4 linked regions of the Homo sapiens genome follow. The protein of the gene in region 2 purifies or fractionates together with the protein of the main gene of each other region. This does not show direct contact. Each region holds a gene or a part of one and is shown on either strand. Other genes may lie near its edges.

What was found.
Region 1: the proteins of FMR1 (region 2) and PRRC2C purify together in Homo sapiens (affinity purification with mass spectrometry; 2 studies listed by BioGRID and IntAct, with this or other methods). This does not show direct contact.
Region 3: the proteins of FMR1 (region 2) and CAPRIN1 purify together in Homo sapiens (affinity purification with mass spectrometry; 2 studies listed by BioGRID and IntAct, with this or other methods). This does not show direct contact.
Region 4: the proteins of FMR1 (region 2) and KBTBD2 purify together in Homo sapiens (affinity purification with mass spectrometry; 3 studies listed by BioGRID and IntAct, with this or other methods). This does not show direct contact.

The regions. Positions count from the first base shown.
Region 1 is NC_000001.11:171,537,517-171,544,544, forward strand, and holds part of PRRC2C (protein PRRC2C), read left to right. Parts: intron 1-2,454; coding exon 2,455-4,713; intron 4,714-7,028. UniProt on the Homo sapiens protein: Required for efficient formation of stress granules.
Region 2 is NC_000023.11:147,914,891-147,921,918, forward strand, and holds part of FMR1 (fragile X messenger ribonucleoprotein 1), read left to right. Parts: intron 1-7,028.
Region 3 is NC_000011.10:34,054,714-34,061,741, reverse strand, and holds part of CAPRIN1 (caprin-1), read right to left. Parts: intron 1,265-7,028; exon of another isoform or gene 551-1,264; intron 1-550. UniProt on the Homo sapiens protein: mRNA-binding protein that acts as a regulator of mRNAs transport, translation and/or stability, and which is involved in neurogenesis, synaptic plasticity in neurons and cell proliferation and migration in multiple cell types.
Region 4 is NC_000007.14:32,867,740-32,874,767, reverse strand, and holds the end of KBTBD2 (kelch repeat and BTB domain-containing protein 2), read left to right. Parts: intron 1-3,887; coding exon 3,888-5,423; 3' UTR 5,424-6,596; downstream 6,597-7,028. UniProt on the Homo sapiens protein: Substrate-specific adapter of a BCR (BTB-CUL3-RBX1) E3 ubiquitin ligase complex that acts as a regulator of the insulin signaling pathway, modulating insulin sensitivity by limiting PIK3R1/p85alpha abundance in adipocytes.

The sequences.
Region 1 (7,028 bases), on a different chromosome or scaffold from region 2:
GTAAAAGGAAAACTGTGTAGTGTTTCTGAAGATCATTCCAATTTAGGACTGAAGCATAAATCTGGTTTCCTTCTATTTAATTTAGCATGCTACGCTTACTCTTTGGACATATTCTCTGTATTCATTAGGGCATTTTGTAACCTGGTTCTGTACTCAATTGTATGCTGTAATTTAGTATTAGATGTTGAAATTGGTAGGTTCTTTTTTGAGATAGGAACTTGCTCTGTTATTCAGGCTGGAGTGCGTTGGTATGATCTTGGCTCACTGCAGCGTTCACCTCCCAGGCTCAAGTGATCGGCTTACCTCAGCTTCCTGAGTGGCTGAGACTACATGCGTTCACCACCACACCCCGCTAATCTTTGTGGGGTTTTTTGTTTTGTTTTTGTTTTTGTTTTTGTTTTTGAGACAGAGTCTTGCTCTGTCTCCCAGGCTGGAGTGCAGTGGCGCGATCTCAGCTCACTGCAAGCTCTGCCTCCCGGGTTCACACCATTCTTCTGCCTCAGCCTCCTGAGTAGCTGGGACTACAGGCACCCGCCACCACGCCCAGCTAAATTTTTGTATTTTTAGTAGAGACGGGGTTTCACCGTGTTAGCCAGGATGGTCTCGATCTCCTGACCTTGTGATAATCTTTGTATTTTTTATAGAGATGGGGTTTTGCCGTGTTGCCCAGGCTGGTCTTGAACTCTTGGGCTCAAGCAGTCTGACTGCCTTACCTCCCAAAGTGCTGGGATTATAGACGTGAGCCATCGTGTGCAGCCACTTGGGATGTCTTTATTGTAGAGTAGGTGTGAAGAAATTTAGGTGTATCTACAATGCTTATATAATATAGCTAGATGTAATTTTTCCATTAGTGAGATGTTTCTTTTTAACAGTATTTTAGGGAACATTTTTAAGGCCAAGATAAGGAGAAATACAATAATACAAAGTTAACTTTGAAATGGCGCACAATTGGTGATGACTGTAATAATTTATAGCCATACAGTTGGAACTTCCTGCCCTTTTATGGGCTATATTTTTTTGGTAATGTTTTATAATGTTTTATAATTATTTGTAATTAACTGGGACAGATAAGCTTACTCAAGTGTACTCTTTCATTCTAGGTGGAAATTACTGGTCTTGATGGATTAGAAATTCACATCAGCATGGTCTTAACTTTGTTTTTCCTTAAGGAATAAACTTCATTTATTTATTTCTATTTTTTATTTTTATTTTTTGAGAAGGGTCTCGCTCTGTCAGCCAGGCTGGAGTGCAGTGATGCAATCACAGCTCACTGCAGCCTTGACCTCCCAGGCTCAAGTGATCCTCTCACCTCAGCCTCCTGAGTAGTTGGACTACAGGCATGCAGTACCATACCCGGCTAATTTTTGTATTTTTTGTACAGACAGGGTTTTTTCATGTTGCCCTGGCTGGTCTCAAACTCCTGGGGCCCTAGTGATCCTCCTGCCTCCCAGAGTGCAAGGATTACAGGCATGAGCCACCGCTTCAGGCCCATTTTTTTTTTTTTAATGGAGTTTTGCTCTTGTTGCCCAGGCTGGAGTGCAATGGTGCCATCTCAGCTCACCGCAACCTCCGCCTCCCGGGTTCAAGCGATTCTCCTGCCTCAGCCTCCCTAGTAGCTGGGATTACAGGCATGTGCCACCACGCCCAGCTGATTCTGTATTTTTAGTAGAGACGGGGTTTCTCCATGTTGGTCAGGCTGGTCTCGAACTCCCGACCTCAGGTGATCCGCCCTCCTCGGCCTCCCAAAGTGAGGATTGGGATTACAGGCGTGAGCCACCGCACCCGGCCCTATTTATTTTTAATTGTGGCAGAAACCACTTAGAACATTAGATATATCCTCTTAACAAAAATTTAATCATATGGTACCATGTAGTTAACTGTAAGCAGTGTTATACAGCAAATCTCCAGAACTTTTTTTTATCTTGCATGACTGAAACTTTATACCTATTTCCTATTCTTACCTTTACCTATATTTCCTATATTTACCTTTACCTATATTTCCTATATTATACCTATACCTATATTTCCTATTTCCCCCTACTCCTAGCCCCTGGCAGCCACCATTATGGTTTCTGCTTTGATGAAGTTGATTATTTCATGTTCCTCATGTAAGATATTTGTCCTGACTGACTGACTTCACTTAAGCATAATGTCCTCAGGGTTTATCCATGTTGTAGCATATGACACTATTTCCTTCTTTTTTATCCCTGAATAATATTCTATTGTATGTGTATACCACATTTTCTTTATCCATTCAGCTATTGGATATTTAGGCTGTTTCCACCTCTTGGCTATTGTGAGTAATTCTCCTCTAAACTTTTTATATAGCGAGAGAAAGATTCTCATTATGGTTAAGAGTCATTGCTTTCTGTTTTAGAGGGATTATTTTGCTATATACTTACGCATGGGAAAGATTGCTTTGTTGATTATACCTTTGAATTCTTATCATCATAGGTCTGAAGCTGCGTTGGACCAGGAACAGATTACTGCTGCTTATTCTGTAGAACATAATCAATTAGAGGCTCACCCAAAGGCAGACTTTATCAGAGAATCAAGTGAGGCACAAGTACAAAAGTTTTTAAGCAGATCTGTGGAAGATGTTAGACCTCACCATACTGATGCAAATAATCAGTCTGCTTGTTTTGAAGCACCTGATCAAAAGACCTTATCCGCTCCTCAAGAGGAGCGGATTTCAGCTGTAGAAAGTCAGCCTTCCCGGAAAAGAAGTGTTTCCCATGGATCTAACCATACGCAAAAACCAGACGAGCAGAGAAGTGAACCATCTGCAGGCATTCCTAAAGTAACCAGCAGATGCATTGATTCAAAAGAACCAATAGAAAGGCCAGAGGAGAAACCAAAAAAGGAAGGCTTTATACGATCTTCTGAAGGACCAAAACCTGAAAAAGTATATAAATCTAAATCAGAAACTCGTTGGGGCCCACGACCAAGCTCTAACAGAAGGGAAGAAGTTAATGATAGACCTGTGAGAAGATCAGGTCCCATTAAAAAACCTGTACTTAGAGATATGAAAGAGGAACGGGAACAGAGGAAGGAGAAAGAAGGAGAAAAGGCCGAAAAGGTCACTGAAAAAGTAGTTGTAAAGCCTGAAAAGACGGAAAAGAAGGATCTTCCTCCTCCCCCACCACCACCTCAGCCACCAGCACCAATTCAGCCACAGTCAGTTCCACCACCAATTCAACCAGAAGCAGAGAAATTTCCTTCAACAGAAACTGCAACTTTGGCTCAAAAACCATCTCAGGATACTGAGAAGCCTCTGGAACCTGTGAGTACTGTTCAGGTAGAGCCTGCAGTTAAGACTGTAAACCAACAGACTATGGCAGCACCAGTAGTCAAAGAAGAAAAACAACCTGAGAAAGTCATCAGCAAAGACCTTGTTATAGAGAGGCCTCGACCAGATTCAAGACCAGCAGTTAAAAAAGAATCAACTTTGCCTCCCAGGACCTATTGGAAAGAAGCTAGAGAGAGAGATTGGTTTCCAGATCAAGGATACAGAGGTCGAGGCCGAGGTGAATATTACTCCAGAGGTCGAAGCTATAGAGGTTCTTATGGAGGGCGTGGCAGGGGTGGTAGGGGACACACTCGAGATTATCCTCAGTATAGAGACAATAAGCCAAGAGCAGAGCATATACCCTCAGGGCCTCTCAGACAGCGAGAAGAAAGTGAAACACGGAGTGAGAGCTCTGATTTTGAAGTTGTCCCCAAAAGAAGACGACAGCGGGGTTCAGAGACTGACACAGACAGTGAAATTCATGAAAGTGCAAGTGACAAGGACAGTTTAAGTAAAGGCAAACTTCCCAAAAGAGAGGAACGGCCTGAAAACAAAAAACCTGTAAAGCCTCATTCTTCTTTCAAGCCTGATAATCATGTTCGAATAGATAATAGACTGCTAGAAAAGCCTTATGTAAGGGATGACGATAAAGCTAAACCAGGCTTTCTTCCTAAAGGAGAGCCTACAAGGAGAGGCAGAGGGGGAACATTCAGGCGTGGTGGAAGGGATCCTGGAGGCCGTCCATCACGCCCTTCCACTTTACGAAGACCAGCTTATCGGGACAATCAGTGGAACCCAAGGCAGTCAGAAGTTCCTAAACCAGAAGATGGAGAGCCGCCAAGAAGACATGAGCAGTTTATTCCTATAGCAGCAGATAAACGACCTCCAAAATTTGAGCGAAAATTTGACCCAGCTAGAGAAAGGCCTCGAAGGCAGCGTCCTACTCGACCACCAAGGCAAGACAAGCCACCTCGATTTAGACGGCTAAGAGAGAGGGAGGCTGCTTCAAAATCAAATGAGGTGGTAGCAGTGCCCACAAATGGCACAGTTAATAATGTGGCTCAAGAACCAGTTAATACTCTTGGGGATATTTCCGGGAATAAGACACCAGATTTATCTAATCAGAACTCTTCAGATCAGGCAAATGAAGAATGGGAAACAGCTTCTGAAAGCAGTGATTTCAATGAGAGGCGAGAGAGGGATGAAAAAAAAAATGCTGACTTGAATGCACAAACAGTTGTAAAGGTTGGAGAGAATGTTCTACCTCCAAAGAGGGAAATTGCAAAGAGAAGTTTTTCTAGTCAGAGACCAGTAGATCGTCAGAATCGACGTGGCAACAATGGTCCACCCAAATCAGGAAGGAATTTCTCAGGTCCTAGAAATGAAAGGAGAAGTGGCCCACCATCAAAAAGTGGGAAGAGAGGGTGAGTACTTTGTTTTAAATATAGTTGCTTTTGCACCTTTAAAGAAGCTAAAAGTAGAGTTCTTGGTTGAATTATGCAAAGAGCCAGTCTAGATAAAGGACCAAAAAACATTGTTCTTCCCAAATGCTTTATTCTCTGTTCTCAAAGTGTAAGGGTGCTTAAGGAAGAGAGGTTAAGGTGTCTTAGGAGTCTTTGCCTGCTACGTTACATTTTCCAGAAGAGTTCTCTTGGAAACTTGTAGCTTTGGGAAAATGTTCACATCTAAGGAGGGACATGTACTGTGTCCTTATTTGGTAAGTTATCTGATGAGTAGCCCTCCCTTCTTTCTCAGTTTCTCCTAATAAACCTCTAATGCTACACAGGTGTCCTCTGAGATTTAAATTAATGTTATAACCATATACTTTGTCACTCTAGAGAGAGGCCCAGAAAACAAATCCCTGTTCTACTACCAAGGACACCAATAACATAATTGCCATGGCAATGGATTTTTTTAAAAAAATATTTTTTCTCAAGTAAGCTAAACTTGGCCTGTTTTTTGTTGTTGTTGTTGAGATGGAGTCTCGCCTTGTCACCCAGGCTGGAGTGCAGTGGCGTGATCTCGGCTCACTGCAAGCTCCACCTCCAGGGTTCATGCCATTCTCCTGCCTCAGCCTCCCAAGTAGCTGGGACTACAGGTGCCCACCACCATGCCTGGTTAATTTTTTGTATTTTTAGTAGAGACGGGGTTTCACTGTGTTAGCCAGGATGGTCTCGATATCCTGACCTCGTGATCCACCCGCCTCGGCCTCCCAAAGTGCTGAGATTACAGGTGTGAGCCACTGCACCTGTTGCTTGGCCTGTTTTTTTAACTATTCAGATGTTGGGCCTGGTGCGGTGGCTCCTGTAATCCCAGCACTTTGGGAGGCCAAGTTGGGCGGGTCACAAGGTCAGGATATCGAGACCATCCTGGCTAACACAGTGAAACCCCGTCCTCTACTAAAAATACAAAAAATTAGCCAGGTGTGGTGGCAGGCGCCACTGGGAGTGGAGCTTGCAATGAGCCGAGATTGTGCCACTGCATTCCAGCCTGGGCCACAGAGCGAGACTCCGTCTCAAAAAAAAAAAAAAAAAAGTTGGTTATAGTAAGCTAGTATTGATTTATTTATTTAGTGTTAGCATTATAACGTAGCAGTTAAGATTCAGAATGCCTAGGTTCAAATCTCGGCTCTAGTACTTTCTAGTTGCTTCCCCTTTGCTTCCTCACCGCTAAAATGGGGAGAAAATAATAGCACTTAATGTGTGAAGATACTAAGATGATACTTGTGATGCACTTAATACCTGGTATATAGTAAGTAATCATTATTATGTGTGCCCTGCTTTTAGAGCAATTGCCAGGTTTGCAGCCTGAGCTGATAAGAATTTAAGAATTTATTTGGACTGTATGGTATTAATCTGAGTTCCTTAGTTTTACATACTTAGCACTTCAGATTACTATACCCATAAGGTATATTTGTCTATTTTCTGTTGATATAACTAAATACCTGAGATCTGGTAATTTATAAAGAAAAGAAATGTATTTCTTGCAAATCTGTTGGCTGCAAAGTCGAAGGTTGAGGGGGCGACATCTCATGAGGGCCTTCTTGTTGGTAGAGACTCTGCAGAGTCCCAAGGCAGCATGCTTATCACATGGTGAGGGGGCTCACAAGAGATGGCACAACTGGCTTTTATAACAGACCCGTTCATGGTAACTAACCAACTCCCTTGATAACCCATTCATTAACCTGTTAAGGATCAATCAATCCATTCAGAAGGGCAGAGCCCTCATGACATAATCACCTTCCAAAGTTCTCACCTCTCACCACTGCTGCATTGCCATTAGGGACCAAGTTTCCAACACATGAACTTTTTTTTTTTTATTGAGGGCGTGGGTGAGGGACGGAGTCTCACTCTGTCACCCAGGCTGGAGTGCAGTGGCGCAATCTCTGCTCACTGCAACCTCCACCCCGCTGGGTTCAAGCATTTCTCCTGGCTCAGCCTCTCTAGTAGCTGGGATTACAGGCGTACACTACCATGCCCGGCTAATTTTTGTATTTTTAGAAGAGACAGGGATTCGCCATGTTTGCCAGGCTGGTCTCGAACTCCTGACCTCAGGTGATCTGCCCACCTCGGCCTCCCAAAGTGCTGGGATTACAGGTGTGAGCCACTGCACGTGGCCCAACACATGAACTTTTGAGGGATATGTTCAAATCACAGCATTAGTTTGCTGTTCCAGATAATTTAGAAAAAGGAAATTTTTACTTGGAATTTGAACATTCCCTTAAAATTCCAAGAGAATC
Region 2 (7,028 bases):
TGTTGAGAATGGTAATGAATTAACTCCATTTTAAATGTAGAATGCGTATCACTCCAATATGAATGCCCTAATGAATCCTAAGATTTGTAGGTTTTGTGTACTAGTATGAAAATTACTAAAGATGGAAAAATCACATGTTGGAGACATAAGATACAAACCTTTTTGTTTTCTGAAAATACAACCTCTGATTTCTGATTCCTTGTTGTAATATGGTGTAATTATACTAGATTGTAATTTTGTTGTTAGATTATACTTTTTTAAGTTCAGTGTTTGAGGACAGACTTTCATTTGGTTAGTAGTATTATGGCAGCTAGCAGCTAAATATGATAAAGTGTACAATCAAAAGGATATTTTTAATGAAGATATTAGTGGTCTAACATGTCATTTCAGATACATAGCTGAAATGTAGTAAAATCAGTTTTACTACAAATAAACTTGCATAAGGTTTATAAATTTATAAGTTTATAAATCAACTTGGGTAAAGTGTAAATAAACTTGCACTCGTGGTTTCTCTGAAGTCTCCTGAGCTAACTTTGCATAAAGGTGTTATTCTGTACTTCGAGGAAGTGAATTATTGGGGTCAACCACATTTTTTTTCCTTCCTACAGTCTGATTGCCCTTTTTAGTTTTTAGGATCTTTGTGGCTGCATCATTTTTCCCCTTTTGAACTGTGCATTTTCTAACCCCATACTTAAATATTCTCATAACCTCCAAATTATTAATTAGATGCAACATTCAGTGGTATATTACTGGAGTTTCTGATTTCTGCCCACTATAGGAATGTGCTTCCTGAGAAGATTGGGATCGTGATTATAATAATAGTTAACAGGGGATGAGTACTTTCTAGGTGCCAGGCACTGTTCTCTCTGATACTTTATTTGATGTATTGTTGTTATTCCCATTCTTTAAATGATGCACAGAGAGGTTAGGTAAGTGACTTACTACCAAGTGTCAGGGCCATTAAGGGTCAGGATTCTGAATTCCTGAAATGATGAAATTTAGCTTGAAGAAATTGGTTTGATTTCCTGCTTAGTTTTCAATTTCATGGTGGTCTTTGATTGTATTTTGTGCTATAACACTGCCTTAGCATCCTATAACTATAGTTACAGTGTTATATTACCATTTTTTATTGTTAATACAAAGCCATCATGAAATAATTCAGTTTATGTGCCAGCTTTTTTTGTTACTAATTCTTGAACCTTGGCGCTGTACTTCTTCATGTGGATGCCTGTTAAGGAAAGATAAAGTTAGAAATCTTTGACCCTGCTAGGAAATTTGTCTTTGTTATATTGGGAGCTCATAAAACTGAAGTATTCAAAAGTTAGAATACATACACACAAGAAAAATTAGTAACTAATTTAATAATGTTTTCTTTGCACATGTCTCTGTTGTCTTTTGGTCAGAGTGAAGCTAAATGTGTTTTTCACATAATTTGTAGCCTATATGAAGTCCTGGACATGTGGTATGGTTGGAAGGACTGTTGATGAGGTTTATTGTCTCTCTTTATTCTTTTATGTTGTTAGTGTCCCCATACAACGGGGCGGGGGGAGTGGGGACAAAATGATAACTTGCTTTATATATGAAGCCTTGGGTTTGAATCATACTGTTATCACATTTCCTATGTCCCTATCCTGTCTCCTGCAGGTTTTCTTTCTTGGTTTTCTTTTTTGGTTTTCTTTCTTCCTTTCTTCCTTTCTTTTCCTTTCTTTCCTTTCTTCCTTTTTTCTTTCCTTTTCTTTTTTCCTTTCTTTCCTTCATTTCTCTCCTTTGCTCCTTTAGTTTGTTTCTTTGTTTCTTTGGTTTGTTTCTTTGTTTCTTTGGTTTGTTTCTTTGTTTCTTTAGTTTGTTTCTTTGTTTCTTTGTTTCTTTCAACAGGTCTCACTGTCGCCCAGGTTGGAGTGCAGTGGTGGGATCTCAGCTCACTGCAACCTCCACCTCTCGGGTTCAAGCCAGTCTCATGCTTCAGCCTTCCGGGTAGCTGAGATTACAGGCATGTGCCACCATTCCTGGCTATTTTTTGCATTTTTAGTAGAGATGAGGTTTCGCCATGTTGGCCAGGCTGATCTCAAGTTATCTGCCTGCCTCAGCCCTCCAAAGTGCTGGAATTACAGGCATGAGACACCGGGTCCAGCTTCCAGCAGGTTTTCTTTAGGAGGGATATTTTACAATGCTGTAAGTTTTTCCTAACGAGAATTATCATAGCACTACATGTTCTGTCTTCAGTAAGTGATACAAGCTTACTGATGATGTTGTAGTTATGTTCATTGGTGGTCGGGTGTACATTGAAACTTTAACACATAATAGCCTCTCCTGTGAGCAGTGGTTCCTGTTGGTAAGATACTTTACTAAGGGAAGGAATGTGAGGTGTCGCTGGGGAGAGTTTACCCAAATAAGGATGGACTTTCTGTCTTTGTTTCATCAGTCCTGGTAATAGAATGTTTGAATAGATAGCTCTAGGCATTACATACTTTCATAAATATGATTATTGTAATTACCTCTTTGGCCCAGTTGCTAGTAAATTAGGGACCCCTTAATGATTTATTTCCTGTTTATTCACCCTGATGAAGAACTTGTATCTCTTTTAAACTGTACTTTATCGCCTTTCTCAAATTCCAAGATTCTCATCACATTTTTTTTCTTCCCAAACTCTAAATAACCTTTTAATATTAAGTATCTTTGTGGAAACATTGTTTTCTTTTTCTATCCCAATTTTTAAAGCTTTTTTAAAAAAAAGAGTGCTTTTGTTGGGATGTACATTTTCCAAATGCAAAAACATTTATGATTCTGTGTCTCTTATAAAATATGACACTCTCTACTTTTCTCTCATTTATTTAGTGCCACCTATGTGTGTAATTTCATTACCCACAGCAGTCTTAGGAGGCTGGTCGAGTTCCTTATTTGCAGATGAGGAATCTGAGGTCCAGAGATCACTTCTTGGTGAGAGTCTCACAGCTATTAAGTATTAGAGCCAAGATTTTGAACGTAGGTCTGATTCACAGCAAAACCGTTAACCACTAAGTACACTGACTCCAGTAAGAGCCCTAGTCCTCACCCAATACACTTTAATTCCCCTGTGCATTCATTCAAATTCATTGAATTTGCTGCCTTTGGAAACCTCTCAGGAACCTCCTCAACCTCTCTTCTCTACAGACATCAGCTTTGCCTGATAGGTAGGGATCATAGCAAAACACAGTTTTCCAAGGTGGTGATAGGTGGAGTGATAGTGCTCTGGAGATGGCCAAAGAAGGAAGGTATGAGTGTATCTGTGGGTGGGTGAGTGGTGGATAAGGGGAAGGACAGAGCCAAAAGCGACGGCTATTGGAAAAACTATGATGAGAAACAGGAAGATGGAACCTTGTTGGAATTAGTGAAAGACCTTAGAATTCACAGGAGGTATTTGTCCTTCACGCGAGTGTAGACCAAACGTAACCTATGAGTTTCTTTTATTCCACTTATTAAAGCAGCAACCAAAGGTATTATATACCTTCTGTATTCACTTAAAATGACTGATTTTGAAAAAGTCATGCAAACATCCATTTACAGATAAGCCTCATTAACTCAAAGGCAGTGGCCCTGTTGGGCTCTGATGATTACTCAAACCATTTCTGACACTCTGACACTACATCCGGAAATCATCCGGAAATGCATTCAGAGCCTGCAAAAGCTTTTTTTTTTTTTTTTTTTTTTTTTGAATAGCTACAGCACTTGCAGATCTTCCTCCTTTGAGAGAATATTTGATTTTAGGAAATAAGCAAATGTAGATAAGTATGATTCAACTGGGCAATAACTTTTAGGCAAAGAGAAAAAAACAAAATATAGCAATGTAGTAATAAGGCTGATATTATAGTGCTTTTATGATGAGTCTGAAAACAGTCTCCAACATTTGTAAATGTTTTAAATCGGGTCTGTCTACTACAGTAGCCCTTAAGCCATATGTAGCTATTGAGCACTTGACATGTTGCAAGAGTGAATTGGAGACTGATTTTAATTTTATTTAATTTTAATGTAAGTAGTCGCACATGACCCGTGGCTACTATGGTAGATGGCATAGTTTTAGACAAGGGCAGTAGTCTTGGGTAGATACTTGATTTACTTAGAACATTTCTTTACCTAGCTGTAACAAGGTTCTAATAGCTGATTAAAGGACAACATTTTTAGCATGTAATATACAGTAAGGAACTAATGTTAATTACTGCCAAGATGTATAAACATTATGAAACCTTAAACAAGGATGAACACAGAAGCAGTGGCCCTTCTTTGTAAATAAGGGGTCAGTTACTTCCTAATAGGTGTCTTAGTTTTAGTTAATAATCTAATAGCACCCCCAAAAAGCAAACTGTTAATTTGTTATTAGCCATCCTGTAAAGACAAGGGAGAAATCGGGGCCAGGAGAGTCCTCTTTCCCATTCTCCATAATTTTTACGACCTATAGAAATAAGAGCCTAAGAGTGACCAGTTCCTGCAACCTAACTCAAAATTAGGCCTCTCTGTTGAAGTAATAGTGAGGCAAACAATCCCTTGAAGCACTGGGGCATGCACCCTTATGAAATCTAATAATTCTAAAATATCATTGGCAGTATTAAGCTAGAGTTCTCAAAATATGCTGTAGAAAATATTGGTCATTTAAATATAGCTGAGTAAAAATAAGCAAGATCAAAATGATAAGAAAATGTTGATTTCTCCCCTTTTGAACCAGTAACTAACTATAAGGGTATATACCCATGCTTAACTTAAAAATAATTATTTAGCCACCTTGGGTATAGCACAACATATGGATGCCATTATAGTCCACCTTGATCTTACAAGGAAGCTTTCTTTTAGCGTAGCTTTACTTTTATTTAAGCATTATTGAAGAAGCTTGGTATCTCTGTTTAAGTTGCTTCTGTATCAGTGTTTTCCAGGGCCCTGTCTCAGCTTCCATAGTTTTTCTTAAGAGCAGCTAATTAATGCTTCACTCCATATGCTTTAATTTGATATTTTGGGAAGTTTCATTTTTTAAAATAATCTTTTTATATCATAGGCCTTTGAAGACATATTTGTTTACAAAGACATCTGCATTGAACCATTTGTTTTTAAAAACATGTATCGGGCATGTTCTATATACCAGAAACTATGCCATTTACTGAGGACACCGAAGTTAGAGAATGGTCTTAATCCGAACTAGTTATTGTCTCACTATCCAATATGGATATCAAACATTCAGCGTCATGAGGATTTACTACTGTGTTTTCTCCCAAGAGTTTTATAATTTTAGCTCTTATATTTAGGTCTTTGATGCATATTCATTGATTTTTTTTTGTATGCAGTATGAGGTAAAGGTTGAAACGTATTCTTTTTGCATGTGGGTGTCCACTTGTCCCAGCTTCATTTTTTGAAAACACTATACTTTCCCCATTGAATTGTCTTGGCTTCTTTGTTGACAAAGGATTTATTATTTCTGCCACAACCCAGCTGTTTCTCACTGTCTAAACCTTTATGCCTGCTGCCCCGTAGGCTTAGTGGAATGCCTCTCCATCCTCCACTCTCTTTTGTTTAGCTAGTACTTCCTTATCCTTTAAGGGGTCAGTAGGAACCTCACCTTCTTCAGTATGTTTTCCTTTGTCTTATCAACCTACCACCATCACCCACACACATACCTTTTCCCTAAGGCTGGGATAGGAACCTCTTAGGCAATGATCTATTTGATAAGTACTCACTGAGTTCATACTAGACACTCTGCAGTATATCCGTAAATGAAGTAAAACCTGACACCACCCTCAGAAAACTTACTGTTAGTGAGAAAATGGGCTATAATAATAGAGTGGGGTAAGTTTATTGTAGGGATAAGCATAGGATGCTATGAGAATGCAGAGGACAGGAATTTAACCTAGACTTCTCAGTTCTCCCGTTGAAGTTGACATCTGAACTGAAATCTGGAAGACCAGTAAGAGATAGCTATGTAAAAAGAGGGGAAGGACAATAGGAAAGAAGGAATGGAGAGAGGCCCAGAAACTACAGAGTATGGCACAAGTAGTTTAGCATTGTTGGGTCACAAATTCTAAGGATATGAAAGATAAAGTTGAAGAAGTGGTGGGGCTGGGGAGGACAGCTCCTGTAGAGCCTTTTACAGCGGGAGAAGGAGTTTGGCTATGGTCCTGCAGGCAGGGAGAAACCACTGAAGGGGAGAAACATACAGAATAAATTTGAGTAAGAAGCTTAAATCTCCCCAAGCCCTTTTAAAATAAATTAAGATATAAAGCCTTTGGGTTTCTTTATGCTTTGTCCTATTCTTCTAATTGTCCAAAACAAAACAAAAACCTTCCTTTTCTGTACCTATTAAAAGGTTAATTTTATAAAGTTACAGACAGCATGCTGATTAAAGAATTCTTGATAATTAGCTATTTTGTCTGTCTTTGTGTAGATTACTAACAATTGTGTCATCAGATTTAAAAGATCTAAACCTCTGGACTTTATATATTTTTTCTACAAGTACTGTGAGATTGAGAACTTAATTCAACTCTAGTAACTGGACTTTTTAGTGTTGTTTGCAGCATATGATTGTTAAAGAAAGTTTAGTATATTTGTGTGTGCGTATATATATATATATAGATAGATAGATAGATTTGAGGTTATATTTAATCATTGACTATTGGTATTCTAAGATTTTAAGGAGAGAAAGGTAGGTTACAATATATGGCTGATATATGGTTCTGGAACAATTTTCTTAGTTTTCAGTAATTCTACCTAAAATGTACGTCCAGCTTTGCACTCACTACCACATTGTAATTTCCAGTATACTTGTCTATTTTTCGAGATGTTGAAATCTGTGGAGAATTTTTTCTCATGTTTAGTGTTTTAGCTATGTTTATCTCTAGGGTATAGCACATACAAGGTGGCAATATAGATGTGCTTAATGAATAAAATGATCTTCAAAAACTGACCTTCATTTGAAGTTCTATTTTATTCATAAACACATAAAACGTTTGGTATCACTGTAAAATTTAACTAAAAACAAAAACTATCTTTAAGCTCACAAGTTAATTTAACGT
Region 3 (7,028 bases), on a different chromosome or scaffold from region 2:
GCCTCAGCCTCCCAAAAGTGTTAGGATTACAGGCATGAGCCATTGTGCCCGGCCGGTAAGGATATACTTCTACCACCAAGAACTTAAAGAGTGGCACACCAATGAAACAAATTTTCATTGAGAAACGAGCACTCTACCAGGCCCTGGAAGACTGGTTAAAGCAGAGGCTGAATGAACACCTGTCAGGAATGCTGGATTTCTGAACGCTAAGAATGGCATAAGAATGCTAACCTAGGCCAGGTGCAGTGGCTCATGCCTGTAATCTCAACACTTTGGGAGGCCAAAGTGGACGAATCTCCTGAGGTCAGGAGTTTGAGACCAGCCTGGGCAACATGATGAAACCTGGTCTCTACTAAAAATACAGAAAATTAGCCGGGTGCGGTGGTGGTTGCCTATAATACCAGCTACTTGGGAGGCTTAGGCAGGAGAATCACTTGAACCTGGGAGGCAGAGGTTGCAGTGAGCTGAGATTGCGCCATTGTACTCCAGCCTGGGCAACAAAAGCAAAACTCCATCTCAAAAAAAAAAAAAAAAAAAAAAAGGATGTTACCTAAGGTTCCATTGTAAGATAATTTTTCAAGCAGGTTAAGTATCCAGGAGTTTAGTTTCACAAGCCGTTTGTCCAATTTTTTAAAAAAGATAAAAGCCAATCCTGTAAAAACCTTTATTCCTTGTCCAAGGTTATAATTATGCAGGTAAGTCTGAGTGAATTGAAGCAGCTGACTCTAGTAGGAAAAAGAAATGTTAACAAGTTCCAGCATCACCTACTTTGAACTATATTCTTAAAAAGTCTAAAGCTTCTAGATTTGAAAAGCAAATTACCATAAATAATCTTAAAGGGCATCTTTCAAAATATTAGTTGCTTTAACCAAGCTATTCCTTAGCATAATTCTGTACAACTTATTTATATTAATACATTCCTTGGGAGTTAAATGTAAAAAAATTACATCCCCACCATCACTGTTTTAATACTTTTTCGTTTTCTAAAACAGCACAGACTCCTGCTACATGAGCAAGCTTTCAGCATTTGAAGATAGCTGCCATGGATCATCTATAGATTGCAATGTGTTCTTTCTACCGTCGTCCTTTTAAAAATTGAGGAAACTTTTGCTTACTATCTTTCCTGTCCACAATGTAAAAAGAAGTTCAATGTAACTCAAAGTGTAAGCCCAAAGGGTTTTTTAATGACTAAAATATATTTCAGTTATTTCTATGTTTAGATAACAGTATTGAGGGGGGCCAGGCACAGTGGGTCAACCCTGTAATCCCAACACTTTGGGAGGCTGAGACAAGAGGATCGCTTAAGGCTAAGAGTTCAAGGTTGGAATGAGCTATGATTGCCCTGCTGAACTCCAGCCTGGGTGATAGTGAGACCCTGTCTCTAAAAAATTAAAATTAAAATATTTTTAGAACAGTATTGAGGAGAATGCAATGAAATTTCCAATAATGTACAATGGTTCTAATAATAAGAATTATCTGTGTTCTCTTAAGACCATTCACATATCTTGCTAATGCTACCCAGCTTTTTTTTTTTTTTTTTTTTTTTGAGATGGAGTATCACTCTGTTGCCCAGGCTAAAGAACAGTGGCGCGATCTCGGCTCACTGCAACGTCTGCCTCCCAGGTTCAAGCAATTCTCCTGTCTCGGCCTCCCAAGTAGCTGGAACTACAGCTGCATGCCACCATGCCCAGCTAATTTTTCATATTTTTAATAGAGGCGGGGTTTCACAGGTTGGCCAGGCTGGTCTCGAACTCCTGACCTCAGGTGATCCACCTGCCTCAGCCTCCCAAAGTGCTGAGATTACAGGCGTGAGCCACCATGCCCAGCCTGCTACCCAGCTTAAAAAAAAAAAAAAAAAAAAAGTATTCTTCTACTTGCCTACTCATCAACTCTACACACCTGTAAAAAGTAAAAAACCCTTCAGGAAAAAAATCAATTTCAATAAAAAAACACTGCAAGTAAATAGTTCTGTGCAAAAAGCATTTCCTCCCTAACCCCATGGATTAATCCATTTTAACAGGGTTGTTAATGAAGCTACAGATATTTCTATGTAATGATTTGGCCAAACTACCAAGTACTTATTCAGCATATACCATGTGTGAGAAAGCGCAGCAAAGTAATGTTAATAGTCTCTGCCCACAAAGAGCTTATTACCAATTTAGAAAAACATGTAAGGTTAACAACACAAGGCAATATAAAAATGTCAAGAAGTTTTGGACGCCGAGGCAGGCAGATCACAAGGTCAGGAGTTCAAGACCAGCATGGCCAACATGGCGAAACCCCGTCTCTACTAAAAATACAAAAAATTAGCCAGGTGTGGTGGCATGCACCTGTAGTCCCAGCTACTCAGGAGGCTGAGGCAAGAGAATCACTTGAACCCAGGAGGCGGAGGTTGCAGTGAGCCAAGACCACACCATTGCACTCCAGCCTGGGCGACACAGCAAGACTCCGTCTCAAAAAAAAAAAAAAAACAATGTCAAGAAGTGTACAGACAATAGGTAACAGGGGAAGTTAAAGGAAACAAACTACTTTAGCTGAGCATGGTCAAGAAGCACACCCTCCCCTTTCCTCAGGAAGTTTGAATTTTGAACTCTACTCAGTAAATTATCTTTCACCCACGTTTTTGTACTCATAGTCTATCTAACAAAAGCACTGTAGTAGAGCTAGTGAAAGAAAGAAATAAATGAGCTAAAACAAAGCAATTTACAGTTCCAACTTTGGATGAATTTCTCTTCTGCTACTCCTCTCACTCTTCTATACTGTATACACACACACCATTCATTTCCCCCAGAAAAAGGAACCAACTACCAAAAAATACCCAGAAGCTTGGAATACAGTAATTTGGATGAAAAGGTTGTCACACTTCTTATTTCTCTCTACTGGTAATGCTTTTTCCAGATTTTTCCGGTCTACAACATACCAAGCTGGAGTAGAGTCTGACAAATGTACATAGGAAGCTAAACATAAAGAAAAACTTCAGAGTTTTAACTTTATAAAAGTTTATTTCATTACAATATGGATGTCCCAATGATACCTGACACACTGGGATTTTACCTTACCGATATTCTCAGAACCCCATTACCCGGACAATGCAAACACAAAGTTCAACAATGAGACATTAATAAAAGTCTAATAATAAGGAAATGGAAAGCATTTTTCTTTTGCATTCAGTTTTTTAAAACAGAAAAACTCTAAGGATTTGAAGCAAAAGGCTTTACTTGATTCTACATAATTAAACATGAAAACTACACTTAGGCCGTGGAACATTACAAATTCTAATTACTCCCATAAAACATTATTTAAGAGGCCGGGTGTGGTGGCTCACGCCTGTAATCCCAGCACTTTGGGAGGCCAAGGCGTGCAGATCACTTGAGGTCAGGAGTTTGAGACCAGCCTGGTCAACATGGCAAAACCCCGTCTCTACTAAAAATACAAAAATTAGCTGGGCGTGGTGGCATGCACCTGTAATCCCAGCTACTCGGGAGGCTGAGGCATGAGAATCACTTGAACCCAGGAGGCAGAGGTTGCAGTGAGCTGAGATTGCACCACTGCACTCCAGTCCTGGGCGACAGAGCAAGATTCTGTTTCAAAAAAAACTGCGAGAATTTTGGAAATCACCCATTCCAACCTAAGTCATTCCATATAAACATCTCAATTTTGTCTTCTATAAAATGAACTGGACTAAATTCTAAGGTGGTTTAAGCTCTAAAAAAAAACTCTTAGGCCGGACATGGTGGCTCATGCCTATAATCCCAACACTTTGGAGGCTGAAGTGGGTGGATCACTTCAGGTCAGGCGTTTTGAGACCAGCCTGGCCAACATGGTGAAATCCCATCTCTACTAAAAATATAAAAAATTAGCCGGGCGTGGTGGCGGGCGCCTGTAATCCCAGCTACTCAGGAGGCTAAGGCAGGAGAATAGCTTGAACCTGGGAGGGGGAGGTTGTAGTGAGCCGAGGTCATGCCATTACACTCCAGCCTGGGCAACGAGAGCAAAACTGTCTCAAATAATGATAATAAATAAAAATTAAAAATCCTCTAAATTTTATAACAGTGTAAGATTATAGCTATGACAAAATTGCTATAAGTTTAACCTTTTGCAAAAGTATTGCAAAAATTAACACTTTTACTAAAGGAAAAGTGTTAGTTTTTCTAAAAGATGAAACAGTACTAGTCTTCATCTAGCCCTAAATGTAAACTAGGAAATTAATTACATAAAATTTTGGCAAATTGTATGCTTAATCTGTAAGTCACACAAAATGCATTCTCAAATATCTGCCACATGGGTAGTATCCTAGAGTACACTAATTTGGCCACGTTAAAACAATACATTCTCAATGTAATACTTAGGCTTCGACTCTCACCCTAGAAAAAGGTACCCATTATCACTTGGGGGAATTCACAGCTTTAAATACTTCCCAGTGCTACACATACAAACACACACAGTCAAGCAAAGGGAAACAAATTAAGCATTACAGCTTTTTTCTATGACAAGGTGAATGCAAAATAATCTTGCCCTCTGCATTGCAGAAGAATAGTTCTTGCAACCCATGGAAAAGCAAACACATCAAGAGATCTTAAATGTCAAAGAAGGCTTCAGGTAATAGCCTCAAGGAAAGATTTTACTTATAAAATAGTTAAGAATGTTTTTATTTTAAAACACTGAACACATAAGTTCTGCACAACAGCTGCAATGAAAATTCTAAGCACAGACACACTGCAACGTTCTAGAAAGAAATGTTACCCTCACAACAACAGCATTCTTTTTAAAGAATACTACTAACTGCAAAGATGAAGTGCAGAAAGCCTTCAGGAAAAAGTATTAAAAACACTACACTTCTGGCTATCAGTTTTGGTCACTTAGTGGTTAAAAAGCTGTCAGGCTATTTTTGCATTTTACGCAAGTGATCATTAGTTAATCTTTCACCTACCAAAGTCACTAGAGTCTAAACCTATTATATTCACAAAGAATATAACAATTTTAAATGTCATCTATTAAAACATCCTTTATTCTATATCACAACTGATTACATCTAATAATATCAAATGAGGTCTCTCTTCAGTTAAAATTAAGACTTGGTTTTGAAATATCTTGCATAGCCTAGGGCCCAGTTCAGCACCAATGAACTGATAAAGAAAACTAGGCAGTTAATCATTCAATTCAATATTACCTGTAAGATTTGCAAATGGATTTTACACTTGATTATCACAGCTGTATTTCTTCTCTTTGCTAAACATTCATGTACTCTTTATAAGCCTGAATTTAAAAACCCACCAAGCCTTTTAGTTGCATTACATAACACGATCATATTTCATCAACATTAAGAGCATGCATTCTCAATGAGCAGATGCTTAGCTTTTTCTTTAATGGCTCAAATTATTAGGAAATAAACAACTTTGTTTTTTAAAGTACAATAAAATTATTTCAATTCTCTGTTTTAATTTAAGCAATACTACATATCCATAGTCATTTTTGCCAGGATATTTGATTTTAAAATCCATAAAAAAAGCATTTTGGTCCAGAAGGCTCCGATAAGAATAGGTCAAGATTGAAATAAAGCTCAAATGTAAGTTGCTAAATGGACTGAAGTCAAAACAAATCTAATTGTAAATAGTACCTCACTTTACTCCACAAGGGTTTCTAAAGAGGAATTCAAAACTGATTTGTAAAGCAATCCTATTTTAGTGCATTAGAAATGCTCACTTATACTTAAAAACAGTTAAGTCTTCTCACAAGTAAATCATCTAAATATAAAAAGGATTTAAACTAAAAACCAGATGTGCTTAAATTTAGGGCAAATCCAAATGCCCTGGGTTTTTCAAAGGGCAAAAGATATAGTTTTAATAGCAATTAAGTCAACATCAATACTGCCAACTTAACTACTTAACATGTAGGTAGAGTTCAGTCTGTGGCTTATCAAAGTCTCAAGACTTAACTGTAACTTGACCTTTTTGCTGCTATCTACCACTTAAAACACTGAGAAGACAGAAAAAAAAGTTACTTTGTGCAGTTTGTTGAATCTCCATTATTAACACGGCAATCTTTCAGTATGTATTAGCCTAGTTAATAACCTATGTAATAATTACATTATTTTCTCCTTTATGACTTTAGGGGAGGCCCGGCATGGTGGCTCACACCTGTAATCCCAGCACTCTGGGAGGCCGAGGCGGCTGGATCACCTGAGGTCAGGAGTTCTAGACCAACCTGACCAACAAGGTAAAACCTGTCTCTACTAAAAATACAAAAATTAGTTGGGCGTGGTGGCAGGTGCCTGTAACCCCAGCTACTCTGGGCGGGGGGCCGAGGCAGGAGAATCGCTTGAACCCAGGAGGCGGAGGTTGCAGTGAACCGAGATCACATCGTCGCACTCCAGCCTGGCGGACAAGAGCGAGACTTCTCAAAGAAAAAAAAATTGCCTGGGGTGGTGGCGCACACTTGTAATCACAGCTACTTAGGAGGCTGAAGCGGGAGGATCACTTGAACCCGGGAGGTGGAGGTTGCAGGAAGCCAAGATCATCCTACCGCACTCCAGCCTGGGCACTCCAGCCTGGGCAACAGAGATTCATCTCAAAAAATAAAAATAAAATAACAAAATCACTTGAGGGTAGGGTATGACAGAGTATAGTAATTCACATACACCTATACACATTTAATGACCAGTCATGGTTCAAGTCCTCAGGAGGGGCTTATAAACTAGATTTATATTTTTTTTTCAGAAGTACTTGAACACTAGATTCTAACAGCCACCTCACAACTAAATTGGCTGCCAATCAGCACCTACCTTTATATTAACTTCTCTGAGGAGTTATCTTTCAGTCATTAATGTCTCTACACTTTATATCACTAATCATTAATGTTCATAATTAGTATTAACACATTATTAATGTTCACAATCATTAATATTTTATGTTCAATTACTGTCCTAGAAAAAAACATTTCCAAGAAATTCTAAAGAATCAAAAACTCAAGTAGCAGCCAGATCAGCAGGCTTGCTTACTGCATTAAAATTTTAAAAAGAGGCCGGGCAC
Region 4 (7,028 bases), on a different chromosome or scaffold from region 2:
CCTGCCTTGGCCTCCCAAAGTGCTGGGATTACACGCGTGAGCCACTGTGTCCAGCCTACAGGTAAGCATTTTTTTACTCAGTTACATACATGAGTTGTAGCTTATTGGTTTATTATGTGGTTTATTTTGTGAGGAAACATTGTTAAACATTTTTTATTTATGTTTTTGAGATGGGGTCTCGTTCGGTCACCCAGGCTGGAGTGCATTGGTGCAGTCATGGTTCACTGAAGCCTTGAACTCATGGGCTCAGGTGATCCTCCTGCTTCAGCCTCCTGAGTAGCTGGGATGACTAAAGGTGTGCACCACCATGCCCAGCTACTATTTTTATTTATTTATTTATTTATTTATTTTTATTTATTTATTTTTTTGAGACGGAGTATCATTCTGTCACCCAGGCTGGAGTCTAGTGGCGCGATCTCAGCTCAGATGCAAGCTCCGCCTCTGGGTTCATGCCATTCTCCTGCCTCAGCCTCCCGAGTAGCTGGGACTACAGGTGCCTACCACCACCCCCGGCTAATTTTTTGTATTTTTAGTAGAGATGGGGTTTCACCGTTGTTAGCCAGAATGGTCTCGATCTCCTGACCTCGTGATCCACCCACCTTGGCCTCCCAAAGTGCTGGGATTACAGGCATGAGCCACCACTCCCTGGGCCAATATTTTTATTTTTTGTAGAGACACGATCTCACTGTGTTGCCCAGGCTGGTCTCAAAATCCCAGGCTCAAGCAATCCTCCTGCATTGGCTTCTCAAAGCCCTGGGATTACAGGTATGAACCACCATGCCTGGCCCAGTAATGTCTTTTATCTATGTAATTTTCTTATTACGTGTTTTAGAAGGTAAAAGGTTTTTTTCTTTTTACAAAATGTGTAAGGGAAAAACAATAGGATTTGATTACCCAGTAAACTAAGTAGTTTTGTGATGGGAATGTAAATCTGTTAATAAAAGAGATAGGTGAAAATTTTATACTGGTTTCGTGTGTTTTACTACCTAATATACCTGAGAATTTTGATTTCAAGTTAAAGTAATTTTTTTTTGAGACGGAATTTCACTCTTGTTGCCCAGGCTGGAGTGCACTGGCACAATCTTGGCTCACAACAACCTCTGCCTCCTGGGTTCAAGTGATTCTCCTGCCTCAGCCTCCTGAATAGCTGGGATTACAGGCATGTACCACCATGCCCAGCTAATTTTTGTATTTTTAGTTGAGGTGGGGTTTCACCACATTGGCCAGGCCGGTCTGGAACTCCTGCCATCAAATGATCCACCCGCCTTGGCCTCCCAAAGTGCTGGGATTACAGGCATGAGCCACCACTCCCAGCCAAATTAAAGTAATTTTTAACAGTGTTTATTGAATTTAAGTGTTTCAATTTTTTTTTTTTTTTTTTTTGCTTAGAGCTTAGATATACTAATTTTTCATGGTACTATTTTTCACAGAAAACTTGGTGGAAATTATGATAAATATTTATAATGGCTATGTGACCATATTGAGCAATTAAGGAGAAGTATTTAAACAAAACAAGTGATGGTTGATATATTTATGTATGACAAACTGTTTTACTCTTTATTTCCCCATCATGTTCCCTTTTTAAATTTTAAGAGGAATATAAGAGTTTTTTTCTTCATTTCATCTCCTGTTTTGGAATAACACTGTATTTCACTAAGTTTCTTCAGAGGGAGAACCTTTAGATCAAAGGTTAAATTTGGAGAGCACTGTTCGTGATATTTGTTAAGTACTTAATAAATATGCACTGAATGAGTATGCATGACACTGGTTGAATGCCAACACCTGGGTATAATTCTGGAAACCAGAACTCAGTTCATGCTTTATGTAGTCTCCTTCCTTTTTAATCTTCCATAGGTTGAGTACCCTTTATCCAAAATGATTGGGACCAGAAATCCAGTTCAGCCAGTTTCAGATTTTTTCAGATTTTAGGATATTTGCATTATATGTTAGATTTACATCATCCCTAATCTAAAAATCTAGACTCTGAAGTGCTCCCGTGAGTATTTCAAGTGTCATGTCAGCACTCAAAACATTTCAGTTTTTGGAGCATTTTGGATTTTGAATTTTTGAATTAGGGATACTCAACTTTTTGTGTGACAGGGTCTTGCTCTGTTGTCCAGGCTGCAGCACAGTGGTGAGATCACAGCTCACTGCAGCCTCGATCTGGGCTCAAGTCATCCCCCAGCCTTAGCCTCCTGAGTAGCTGGGTCTGTAGACATGCATCACCACACTTGGCTAATTATTTGATTTTTTTGTAGAGACAAGATCTTATGTTGCCCAGGCTAGTCTCAAACTCTTGAGCTCAGGCACTCCTCTCACCTAGGCCTCCCAAAGTGCTAGGATTACAGGTGCGAGTTACAACACCTGGCCAACCTTTACTCCTTATTACACTAACTTTATCGTTAGTGTTCTACTCTACCCACAACTCTGGGGAAACTGAGGCTGGGGTAGCTTGCTGGTGCACTAGTAATTCCAAACTTGAACGGGAGAAATGCTTATTGGAAGCACTGTCTTTATATAGTTTGCAAGTTGTCATTACTTTTTATTTTTAGAGACATGTCTTGTTCTGTTGCCCAGGCTGGAATGCAGTGGCATGCCACCATGCAGTGGCATGGTGATAGCTCACTGCAGTCTCAAATTGCTGGGCTCAAGTAATCCTCCTCCCTGTAATCCCAAAGTGCTGGGATTATAGGCATGCACCAGCACATCCAGCTAATTTTTTGTTGGTCCTTCTTTTAAAAGCAGGCATTTCTCAGAATTACTAAGGCATTAAGGAATTTTAAGAAAATCTGATTCCAGAATACTTTGTTACTGTAAATATTGACACTGCTCCTTAACATTTTTTTTCTGCCATTTTAACGAAAACCGTATACTACTTCTGCTTGCTCAAATGCAAAACAGGACTCTGCCTCTTAGACTGTGTTGCCCTGGAAGCCTGAGATGGGGCATTCTATGACTACCAATATTACTTTCACTATCAACCACATGAAGTGATCATATGTTTCAGTACCAGATGGTGTACTGATACTTTATATATATTCTCATCTGATCCTTACAGGGCTCATTTGAGGGAGATAACTATTATTTCCCCATTTTATATAAGAGAAAATTGAAGTTTAGAGATGTGAAGCTTCTTTCCTAATAAGTAGTTTCCAGGTACTAATTGGCCAATTAAGTTTTAAATCCAAGCAACCTGACTTGTCAGTGTAAACAGTTTCTAGTTAATCACTGTGATGCTGAATAAGTATAGTGGGTAGCACATCTGATTCAACTGAGATCTACCTTCTTAAGAAAAAACAAATCTAGGAAGCTTACAGTGGCTAAGATGGGTCATTTAAATGTAGGTGATTTATAACTGCACGTAAGTCTATTTCGTGTTGCTTTGTTATCTTACCTCTCGATAAGAATGGCAAATAACTACTCTTACTCATTGTGCATGATTTTCTGGTTTTATGTGACTGTGTTCAAATTGAGGAAACCAGAATCCAGTTATTCAACAACAATAATTTTCTCTATACTATGATTTATTTACATTTTTTCATATAGTTCTCTCAATTATATATAAAGTCTAGGAAAGTATGACTTATGTGTGAATTTCCTTACCTATTCTTTAAGGCTGTTTTGTTTTTTAAGAGCCTATTTATTGTTGTACTGCTGGTTCCTAAATAGAACAGTTAAGTAGGCCACTGAGCAGGAAAAAATACTGCAAAATTTTATAGTCTTCTGAGTTTATTACTACCAGAAGACCTTATCTCAGCCCAGATGTGTGTATCTGAAAATAAAAATTACACTATGGGCATCTGATTAATATACTTACGTCTTACATAAAAGTAAAATGTGTCTGTCCTGGCCCTATCAGCCTGTTTTTTTTTTCCTTCTCATTCTAGGTAGAAGATGTGTTACAACGTTGTCGAGAATATTTAATTAAAAAAATAAATGCAGAGAATTGTGTACGATTGTTGAGTTTTGCTGATCTCTTCAGTTGTGAGGAATTAAAACAGAGTGCTAAAAGAATGGTGGAGCACAAGTTCACTGCTGTGTATCATCAGGACGCGTTCATGCAGCTGTCACATGACCTACTGATAGATATTCTCAGTAGTGACAATTTAAATGTAGAAAAGGAAGAAACCGTTCGAGAAGCTGCTATGCTGTGGCTAGAGTATAACACAGAATCACGATCCCAGTATTTGTCTTCTGTTCTTAGCCAAATCAGAATTGATGCACTTTCAGAAGTAACACAGAGAGCTTGGTTTCAAGGTCTGCCACCCAATGATAAGTCAGTGGTGGTTCAAGGTCTGTATAAGTCCATGCCCAAGTTTTTCAAACCAAGACTTGGGATGACTAAAGAGGAAATGATGATTTTCATTGAAGCATCTTCAGAAAATCCTTGTAGTCTTTACTCTTCTGTCTGTTACAGCCCCCAAGCAGAAAAAGTTTACAAGTTATGTAGCCCACCAGCTGATTTGCATAAGGTTGGGACCGTTGTAACTCCTGATAATGATATCTACATAGCAGGGGGTCAAGTTCCTCTGAAAAACACAAAAACAAATCACAGTAAAACAAGCAAACTTCAGACTGCCTTCAGAACTGTGAATTGCTTTTATTGGTTTGATGCACAGCAAAATACCTGGTTTCCAAAGACCCCAATGCTTTTTGTCCGCATAAAGCCATCTTTGGTTTGCTGTGAAGGCTATATCTATGCAATTGGAGGAGATAGCGTAGGTGGAGAACTTAATCGGAGGACCGTAGAAAGATACGACACTGAGAAAGATGAGTGGACGATGGTAAGCCCTTTACCTTGTGCTTGGCAATGGAGTGCAGCAGTTGTGGTTCATGACTGCATTTATGTGATGACACTGAACCTCATGTACTGTTATTTTCCAAGGTCTGACTCATGGGTAGAAATGGCCATGAGACAGACTAGTAGGTCCTTTGCTTCAGCTGCAGCTTTTGGTGATAAAATTTTCTATATTGGAGGGTTGCATATTGCTACCAATTCCGGCATAAGACTCCCCTCTGGCACTGTAGATGGGTCTTCAGTAACTGTGGAAATTTATGATGTGAATAAAAATGAGTGGAAAATGGCAGCCAACATCCCTGCTAAGAGGTACTCTGACCCCTGTGTTAGAGCTGTTGTGATCTCAAATTCTCTATGTGTGTTTATGCGAGAAACCCACTTAAATGAGCGAGCTAAATACGTCACCTACCAATATGACCTGGAACTTGACCGGTGGTCTCTGCGGCAGCATATATCTGAACGTGTACTGTGGGACTTGGGGAGAGATTTTCGATGCACTGTGGGGAAACTCTATCCATCCTGCCTTGAAGAGTCTCCATGGAAACCACCAACTTATCTTTTTTCAACGGATGGGACAGAAGAGTTTGAACTGGATGGAGAAATGGTTGCACTACCACCTGTATAGTGGGGAAGTTCAGGGAGTGCACGCCTGAGTTATGTGCTTTGTCATTTTCTTTGCTAAACAAAAGAGGCTATGAAAGAACTAAATATGAGTACATAAAATTCTATCTTTGATAAATTTTATTTTTATGCCCTACTTAATATTTGCATCAGTATAATATATATCAGTGAGTCTTACAGAAAGATATGCTTCCATAATATGAAATAGATTATTCAATAATTGAGAAACTTTATGTGTAATCATGAGAGTATAAGAATCTGGATTATCTAACATTGTTAGCCCTGTGTATGTACAGTTCAAAAAGTTCATTTATAAAAGTAGTTTCCTGTTCCTAGTGTGATGTATCACAAATTGTGCTGAGGTTATTTTAGTATGTGTGTTTCATTCCCGTGCTTCTGTTCTGAAGTCCTGGAATACAGTTTTCAGTGTAATTAATTCAACTGCACTTAACACTAATGTCCGTGTTGGTATAGAAATGTCTAAATCCTATACTCTAGTTGAGGAAGATCTTCCATAATTTTATGGTATTACACAGGGAAAGCTATGACTGCAGGATCAGTCTAACTATACTATTAGGTGCATGTATTCTCTTTTCACTAACTTATACTTGTCTATCTAGAATACAGGTCTTCCAGTCAGCTGGTCATTTACCAGGTGTGGACTTAAGTTGCTAGGCTTGCAGTAAGAATTGCCAGCCACTCATTGTGCGGGTCTGCGTGGAGCTTTAATCAGAAAAAGCCTCCACTTTCTGTATTATGTTAACATTGGCTCATGCATATAACTATCTGCTGCTGATGTAGTTCTCCATCTTCAAGATTTAGAGTGGGTTAACCAGGTCATTACATCTTAATTTAATAACAAGCATTACTGTAGAGTGATTGTGTATAGATCTGTTAGCTGTCAGGGTGTGTTTTTTTTAACCTGTTGTGTGCGTGTGGGGGTTAGGATTAGTAAGGTGAACTGTTCAGGAATTCTCTGCACTAGCTGTGCAGAAGAGCAGATAACTAGCGCTGCTCTGGCATTAATCCCAGGAACCACTAGCAGTAGTGGGGCGCCGCCAATCTAACATGAGCACAGGTGCTTCATGACAAACATTACTAGCATGTTCAACTGCACCATGTTCTGGCACTGTATTTTGAATGACATTAATTTATTAAATAAATTGTATATATTCAATATCTATTTTTCTTTTGTTATGGGAATGGTCTGCTTTTTAAATTTTGATTTTGCTAGGTCAAACTTAGCTAGTAATAGGTGGTTTCTTCCAAATTTTGTTTGATGAAGATTGAGAGATATGCATAGGCTTTCCTTAGGCTAGTGTCTTTCTACCCTGCTGGCATGTTAGAATCATCTGATTCTGATCATCATCTTTAGAAGCTTGAGATGATGCCTGAACCTCACCCCAAACAAAATGGTTTCTTTTTAGAGCACATCATTGATCATGTTTATAGACTTGAACTGCCCCTCCACTGCCTACTGAATGAAGTCCAGATTCCTTACCACATTTAAGGCTCTCTCTAATTTGGCTTTAAATTACCTTTACAGCCCTACCTTGCATTGTTTTTCCATAAGCCTTATCTTCTGATTAGGCTTTCGCTATGCTTTATG